Linked DNA regions of Homo sapiens. The protein of the gene in region 1 purifies or fractionates together with the protein of each later gene. This does not show direct contact. Each region holds a gene or a part of one and is shown on either strand. Other genes may lie near its edges.

Region 1 (4,361 bases):
CACTGTGTGCTTTCTTAATAAACTAAGCAGCAAGTTGTAGAATATTTTAATATCCCATAGTGAGTTTAAGCATAACTCAGGATACTCAGAATCCTCTCTAGTTCAGTCCAGTTCCCCTAAAGCCTTCCCAATAGAACAACAAGGAGAATTCTGACAAAATCTCTCTACCTCACCAGTGGGAAAAGAACATGGATATGACATTACAGAGGGAGCATCTTGTAGCAAAATGGATTGGAATTACACTTTAGGATGGTGTGCAGCTTGTTTATTCAAGGAAGCTGATTGTGGTTACCATTTCAGCTCATTGTTTCCCTCTGATATTCAGATTTCTTTTATCCAAAGTTTTCTGAACATTTGACATATGCATGGAGTAGTAAGAACGCACATTCCTTTGGCTAGGGATTGCATAGTGTAACATTGAAAGGCTTTAGTTATTCTTGATAAAATCAGAAGAATCATTTTGGCAATGTCCATGTTTCCTAATATGTATTTAATTGTTCTAGTTATCTCTAGATTCGTAACACTTGCTTCCAATATTGGCTGCTTTTCACCAGTGGTTATCAGTAGATGTGCTGCATAGACATGTTCAACATCACATAAAGTGTGTCATGAAAAACAATAAAGCACAAATGTTTTTCCTTTCTGCTTCATTTCAAACCTTAGAGAAATTTGTCAGAGTAGATTTATGTTAACTCTATATGTTCCTTGATATTTGAAAAAGAAAGGAAATGAGAGGTAGCTCTCCTTTTTGTACGATAGCAAGGAAAATATGGACTCTCCTACATGGTTCTTCAGCAAGTTAGAATTCTTATTTCATATCTTACACAAGTTTTAAATCTATCCAGAGTTTGTTTTTAATCAACAGCCTTTACCCCCTTGTGATTGTCAGACTCGCATCTACCTTTGTTTTCTGGTAAAAATAATAATAATAATAATCTTTCAGTTCTGATGTGAACTGCAATAACACCTAACAATAATCTTGAGCACACAGACATTATACATTCTACTCTGGAAAGGATTGCAGAATATCTCTTAAAACTCAACAAAAGAATTTTTCTTAAAAACCCTCTAAGATACAAAGGAATAAAACTGAGACTTAAACATGCAGTGAGTCAATTGTTCATATGATTAAAAATAAGTACCTTCTTTATAATGAAAAGGAAAAGTAGCTCAATGTGTTCCTTAAATATAACTAACCAAAACAAATCTTAGCTGGCAATTTGAAGTTGCCGATGCTTCCTGGAAAGAGTTCAGACTCTCAGGTTGATGCAGTGTTCCCTCCCACAACTCTGACATGTATATAAATTCTGAGCTCTCCAAAGCCCACTGCCAGTTCTCTTCGGGGACTAACTGCAACGGAGAGACTCAAGATGATTCCCTTTTTACCCATGTTTTCTCTACTATTGCTGCTTATTGTTAACCCTATAAACGCCAACAATCATTATGACAAGATCTTGGCTCATAGTCGTATCAGGGGTCGGGACCAAGGGTAAGTGAGTGGTTTGGTTTTATAAACCATTTTTCTTTTTCCTCAGCTTGTTAGATGTTCAAGTATGCATAAAGTTTCTCATATATGCCTCAGGGTTTTTTTTCCTAATTATTATAAAGTAATAGGAAAAAAAGGAAAATGTGAGTATTCTGTGATTTATCTATGCACTTTTAAGCTTTAAGACTTAATTGCTCTCTAAATACCTTGAATATAATTGCTTTCTTATGAAATGTTATATAATTCTAATCTAATTAACACAATTTAGCTGGGCATTCTTTTATAATTCCATTTATTTATGTTTTTATTTTCTTCCAAAAATCTGAAATTGAGTTTTCAAAATTAAAAAATCTATTGTTAGGAACTATCATATGTATGCAAACAGCATTGAAATATCTCACATGATGTTAGAGAAAATTTTATTTAAATTACATATGAAGGTTAAATACTGGGTAATGTAACTAGTTCTCTGAATTCTTTGAAGCATTTAAGTTACTTTTAAACTCTGAATTCTGTAAAATTTGCAAAGGTAATTTATATTTTATAGAACTAATGCAACTACAACTAAGCATTTTTAAAATTACACATAATTTTGTAACTTATCCAACCATTTATAATTTTTTAAGCGGATCTTGGCACTTCTTCCTATGCCTCACAGGAATTTTCATAATGTTCACAAGCTTCTTTGACTTACAGTGAAAAAAGACTTCTGTCCCTTTAAGAGGGGAAGGGGAACCTTAAAATTGTGACAGAGGATGTTCTGATCTGTTACTTCCATTCAAAAAGATAAATTCTCCTTTGTGCAACCATATTGTTTCAAAGTTAATTTTAGCACATTTACTTCTGTGATTACTTACCTAGAAAATTACAGAGTATAGTGTCTGTGTACATAATAAACCTTGTCTCTTTTGCTCTCTGACCTCTCATTGTTCCAGAGAGCCCTGAAGTTATGGCCATCCTCCAAATGAGCACATGCTTGGTTTAAAAAGGGTCAGTAGATTATCTACCATTAAAAGTAATAAGGCACATAGAAATAAAATTACGTTCATACTGTTTGAATAGTCCTAGTTGGTTAACTTTTTGAAAAGCTTGTATTTTACTCTCAGAAATGTATAATTTTTCTCTCTCTCCCTGCCACCTCCTGTAGACTTTCGGTTTTTCAACAATTCAGTAGGATTGTGTCAATAATTAGATTTGTGCAAGGCTAGAATCATGTCTTTGGATATCAAATCCACATCTCAACATTTTCTTCTATCAACCAATCTTTAGATACGAAAAACTAGTCATTATTAGGACATTAACTTTTTTCCTTTCCCTCTATCCTCCAGCCCAAATGTCTGTGCCCTTCAACAGATTTTGGGCACCAAAAAGAAATACTTCAGCACTTGTAAGAACTGGTATAAAAAGTCCATCTGTGGACAGAAAACGTAAGTCTCTTTTTTTTTTCATAATATGTCAGTTCCAAAAACAACATCATGATGTATATGCCTTCCCCTGGGTGTACACACCATTCTTCTTGAAAATACTGACCAAAATTGTGAGAGTTATTTAAAGAAAAGAAAGGAATACATACGTGAATAAAGAAGTTCTCCCTGCATCTCCAATATTACTATTAGAACTCAGATTTCTTCCTGAATCCATGTGACATGGAGGCCAGAAGGAAGCAGATCACATGGCTCAGGATTGGGTATAGAATCCGTGTGAGTAAATGATGTTGTTTCTACTCCTGGTTTGGCCCTCTTTTATCTTAGGCAAGTCACTTAACCTCTGTGACTTAGTTTCCTCATTTTATAAAAAAGTGGGCCAGAAAAACAAACTGATTTAAAATATCAGAGTTTCTGAGGCAAAAAGTTAATGTTTGTCTCTAGTCATTTGGAAATTGTCTAAAGTATTCCAGTTTACCGGAGAGTTTTCATCAAAGTTTAAAGTTAAAAAATACTTGAGTTTTATCTCTTTATTTAATCCAGTGATTCTCCGTTCAAGATGCTCCATCCCCAGAGGTCCACAAGGTGATAACGGAAGCTCATCATTATAGTTAATATCTCAATAGCCCAAAGGATGATTATGTTTTAACATATGTTTCACTGATTAGCTTAAAATTTGAAAGCATTATTTATTACTTAATAGACATGCCTTCTGGTTTATTTTACCAATAAATATTGGTGGAAAAAAGTAATAAACACTCTGGACTTATTAAGGTCAAGAACCACTCCTGTGATCCAAAGTCTTTATTTTACAATGAGGGAGACCAGTCATAAATAGGGCAAGTAATGCAATCAGAAAGGTTTAGGTGTCATCCCCAGTCAAGAAAACAGTGCAAGTGGCTCCTTCCTGCTTCCTATTAATTTGAAGTCCACCCTCAGTGAAGGATCCCTTGAGAATCAAAAGACCCCAGGAAGAACCTGCTTAATACATCAGCATTAAAATTCAGTTACCCTAAGTTCGGGTGGAATAATTTATTAGAAACTTATTTCTAAGTTAATAATATTGGTATAAATCCTAAACATGGGCCAGGAGTGGTGGCTCACACCTGTAATCCCAGCACTTTGGGGGGGCTGAGACAGGTGGATCACTTGTGGCCAGGAGTTCGAGACCAGCCTGGCCAACATGGTGAACCCCATCTCTAGTAAAAAAAAATACAAAAATTAGCCGGATGTGGTGGCAGGCACCTATTTGGGAGGCTGAGGCAGGAGAATCGCTTGAACCTAGGAGGTGGAGGTTGCAGTGAGCCGAGATGGCACCACTGCACTCCCGAGTGGGCAACAGAGTGAGACTCTGTCTCAAAAAAAAAAAAAAAAAGATACTAAATATGGAATCACTTAACTTCTTGTAGACTTACCTGTAAAACATGGATTTAATAGCTATATTATAGAGT
Region 2 (3,819 bases), on another chromosome or scaffold:
TAGGTACTTTACATACCTTATTTCCTTTAGTCTTTACAACAACCCTTTGAGGTGAACACTTATTACCACCTTATAAGTGGGGAAACCGAGATTGAGGAGCTAAGTAGTCTGCCCAAGGTGGCATAGCTTGTAAGGGCGAGAGTCAGGATTCTGCCCCAGACCAGCTGACTCCAGGGCCTCTGCTTCACGGTAAAATGGCGGTGAGTCAGGTGCTTACGCCTCCAGCTCTTGCTGACCCTTCCCACTATTGCTTTTCTTCTTCCCATTCAGAACTGAACTTTGGTCTAGCTTGGGTTGCATCTTGAGTTTTGGTTTGGTTTGTTTCCTCAGCTTTATGGCCGGCACAAGGAGTATCTCAGCAGCCTCGTAGGCACCGACTTTGAGATGGTGAGTAGCTTGGCTTCCTGCAGCACTGTGAGCTGTGTTTAGCCGGAGCATTCTGACTGTGGATGAGTTACACTACCTCTCTTAAAGGCCCAAAGGTATACTCTACAGTGTGAAAAGGAAGTCAAAGAATAGCACATATAGTCCTTGTTATGTGTTTTGCAACATTGCATGTTGATAGAGAACTGTTAATGCTAAGAAAAAGGTCTGAAAGGCTATGCACATGCTGTGGGTGGCTTTCTCTGGGGAGGGTGGGATTAGATGTGGTAGAAGGGTAGTGGGTGGTGAGAGGGATATATTAGGGATTTTTGCTTTTTATTCCCTAAACTTAGGTAGCTTTGAATTTTTATCAGTTGTAATGTATTTAGGTATTACTTTATAATTAATTTAAAAAATAAATATAAGGATGAAAAATGTCTTCTTCACCTTTCATGTGGATATTTTTTCAAAATACCCCATAGAGAGGCAGGGGTGCCATTTCTGTTTGTCACATATTTTGGCTCTTAAAAAATATAGGCCTGATGCGGTGGCGCATGACTATAATCCCAGCACTTTGTGAGGCCAAGGTGGGAGGATCACTTGAAGCCAGGAGTTTGAGAGCAGCCTGGGCAACATAGTGAGACCACATCCCTACAAAAAAAAAAAAAAAAATTAGCAAGGCATGGTGATACATACCTGTAGTCCCAGCTACTCATGATGCTGAGGCAGCAGGATTGCTTGAGCCTAGAAGTTTGAGTTTGCATTGAGCTATGATCACACCACTGCATTCCAGCCTGGACAACAGATCAAGACCCTGTCTGAAAAAAAAAGAAAGTGGTTTAGTTCAGCTATTCTGTTGTGCTGTTCTTTGTCTTTTCTCATTCTAAGAGTTCTATCTCTAGACCTGGAAACAAGGATAGAATTACTTCCTGGTCTCCCTCTCTTTCTCTGAAAAATTAACCTTCACTATTTCCATATTGCATAAGCAACAGATATTCAGTATTTAAAAGTTAGATAAGACATGCACAAATAATTAAAAAAGAAAACTCCCTGGTTTCTTGACCTCAGCCATCTAAAGGGAAGAGGGCGTTCTGGCTTCCCATTGCACACCACAGGACAGTTGCTGTTGCTTGAATAATTTCCCATAGTGCATTGTCCTCACTGCCATTTAAATTATGTACTTTCCCCCTACATTGTGAATCTTAGGAATGAAGGAAACAGATCTGTGGAGAAGTGTCAGGGTGGGGAGAAAGTGCAGTAGTGACACCCAGGGCCTGACCCCTAGTGGCAGGTCGTCTGCAGATTTGTAGATGGGGCTGGAGGAGAAGTGCCAATTCCCTCCAGGCCTGCTGATCCTTTCCCACTTCTCTTCACCTTAGACTGTCCCAGGTGCCCTCCGGCTCTTTGTAAATGGAGAGGTCGGTAAGTGTCTTGCTAGCATAGATCTCTTGATGCTTAGGCACGTGCCTAGATGGAGCTGTGAATAGTCTCCTCCACTCTGGTAGAGGCCTTGTCTGCTGTACTTGGGAAACTCAGTGGTGAGTCTTTCCTGGAAACGCAGAGGGTTCCTGGCCCTCAAAAGACTTGCTCTCAGGGTGTGTAGGCCCCTCAGGATTGGGTTGGGTGCTAAGGGTGGTAGGAGAAAAAGCTAAAATAGCTTCCTGTTTTCTCTCGTAGTTTCAGCCCAAGGCTATGAGTATGACAATCTCTACGTCCACTTCTTTGTAGAATTGCCAACTGCTCGTAAGTAATATTCTTAAGTCTCTCCTTTTATACCCATTCAGACAGATCTAGAGGCATTTGGTCAGGCTTCCTTTCCCACTCCTCTGCTGAAACTGTTACTGTTCTTTTCAAGGTCATAGATCACATCCACTTTACCAAACCCAGTGGAGACTTCCCTGCTTTCACCTCGCTTGACCTTCCTGAAGCATTTTCCAGAGCCCACTGTGCTGCATGACACACTTCTCTGGCTTCTGGCTCCACACTTCTCTCTCCTATCTCGCTGGTGGCCCCTCATCCTTCTTGGGTGATGCCTTCCCTTCTGTTGATCTTAAACCGTGAGAGTACCCACAGCTAAGCCAAGGCCTTCTGTTACTCTCTGTCTGCAGTCTTCCTGGGCAACGTCATCCATCCTATGGCTTAAATACCATCAATACGTCTCAGACTCCCAGGTTTCTGCCTCTAGCCTTAACCTTTTCCCTGGACTCCAGACTCATATCCAGTTACCTCTTTTGTCATTTCTGTCTAACATGACCAAAAAGAACTCTTGATTCCTCCTCTTCCCTCAAACCTCTCCTCCCTGGTCTTCCCCATCCTAACAGAATGGCAGTGTCATCTACTGAGTTGTTGATGCCAAAAACCTAGGGAACATCCTTGATCCCTCACTTTCCCTAGCTCCCTATAGCCAGCCAATCTGTCAACAGTTCCTGTCCGTTCTGTCTTCAAAAGCTGTTGTGAACCTATTTGTTCTCTCCAGCACCCTACACCAAGCCACCACCATCTCTTGTCTAGGCCAGTGCATTCAACTTCTGATGTATCCCCCTGCTTCCTGCCTTGCTCCCATTTGCCGTTGATTTGCCACAGACACCAAAGCCAAGTTGAGCTTTAAAAAATGTAAACAAGTTATGTCCCTTTTGAGCTGAAAACCCCAACAGCTTCCCCTCCCACTTAGAGTAAAATGTAAACTTGATACCCTGAATGAGCTGGCCCCTGCCTATCTCTTCCATACAACCTTCCAGTCATTCTTCCCAGCCAGGTTCATTCCCACCTTGTAGCCTTTTAAGGGCCGTTTCCTTTGTCTGAAACCCTTTCTGCCATATCTTAGCATGGCTGGTTCTTTCTGAGTTTAGGTCTCAGCCTGTGTCGCCTCTGAGAGGCCTTCTCTTACCACCCAGTCTAAATGAGCCTCCCAATCACTCAGTCCCTTCCCCGTTTTGTTTTTAGTATAGCACTCATCACTACCCAATAGTCTCTTGTTGGTTTGGTTTTTGTCTGTCTCCCTGCTTCCCCCAGAATGTCAGCTCCATGAGAGATGGGGATCTTTTCTATCTAGTTACCAAGATACCCCTAAGATATACTAGCACATAGCAGGCACTCAGTAAATGGTAAATGAATGATTGATTGTGTGAATAAATGAATAAAGAAACTGTCCGCCCCGTCTGGGAAGTGAGGAGCGCCTCTGCCCGGCCGCCCCATCTGGGAGGTGTACCCAACAGCTCCGAAGAGACAGCGACCATTGAGAATGGGCCATGATGACGATGGCGGTTTTGTCAAAAAGAAAAGGGGGAAATGTGGGGAAAAGAAAGAGAGATCAGATTGTTACTGTGTCTGTGTAGAAAGAAGTAGACATAGGAGACTCCATTTTGTTCTGTACTAAGAAAAATTCTTCTGCCTTGGGATGCTGTTAATCTATAACCTTACCCCCAACCCCGTGCTCTCTGAAACATGTGCTGTGTC

Evidence for each region.
Region 2: the proteins of POSTN (region 1) and MKS1 purify together in Homo sapiens (affinity purification with mass spectrometry, with the first as the bait; one large-scale study listed by BioGRID). This does not show direct contact.

What each region holds. Positions count from the first base shown.
Region 1 is NC_000013.11:37,595,736-37,600,096, reverse strand, and holds the start of POSTN (periostin isoform 1 precursor), read left to right. Parts: upstream 1-1,328; 5' UTR 1,329-1,370; coding exon 1,371-1,489; intron 1,490-2,814; coding exon 2,815-2,913; intron 2,914-4,361. UniProt on the Homo sapiens protein: Induces cell attachment and spreading and plays a role in cell adhesion. Enhances incorporation of BMP1 in the fibronectin matrix of connective tissues, and subsequent proteolytic activation of lysyl oxidase LOX.
Region 2 is NC_000017.11:58,208,946-58,212,764, reverse strand, and holds part of MKS1 (tectonic-like complex member MKS1), read left to right. Parts: intron 1-330; coding exon 331-387; intron 388-1,742; coding exon 1,743-1,785; intron 1,786-2,040; coding exon 2,041-2,106; intron 2,107-3,819. UniProt on the Homo sapiens protein: Component of the tectonic-like complex, a complex localized at the transition zone of primary cilia and acting as a barrier that prevents diffusion of transmembrane proteins between the cilia and plasma membranes.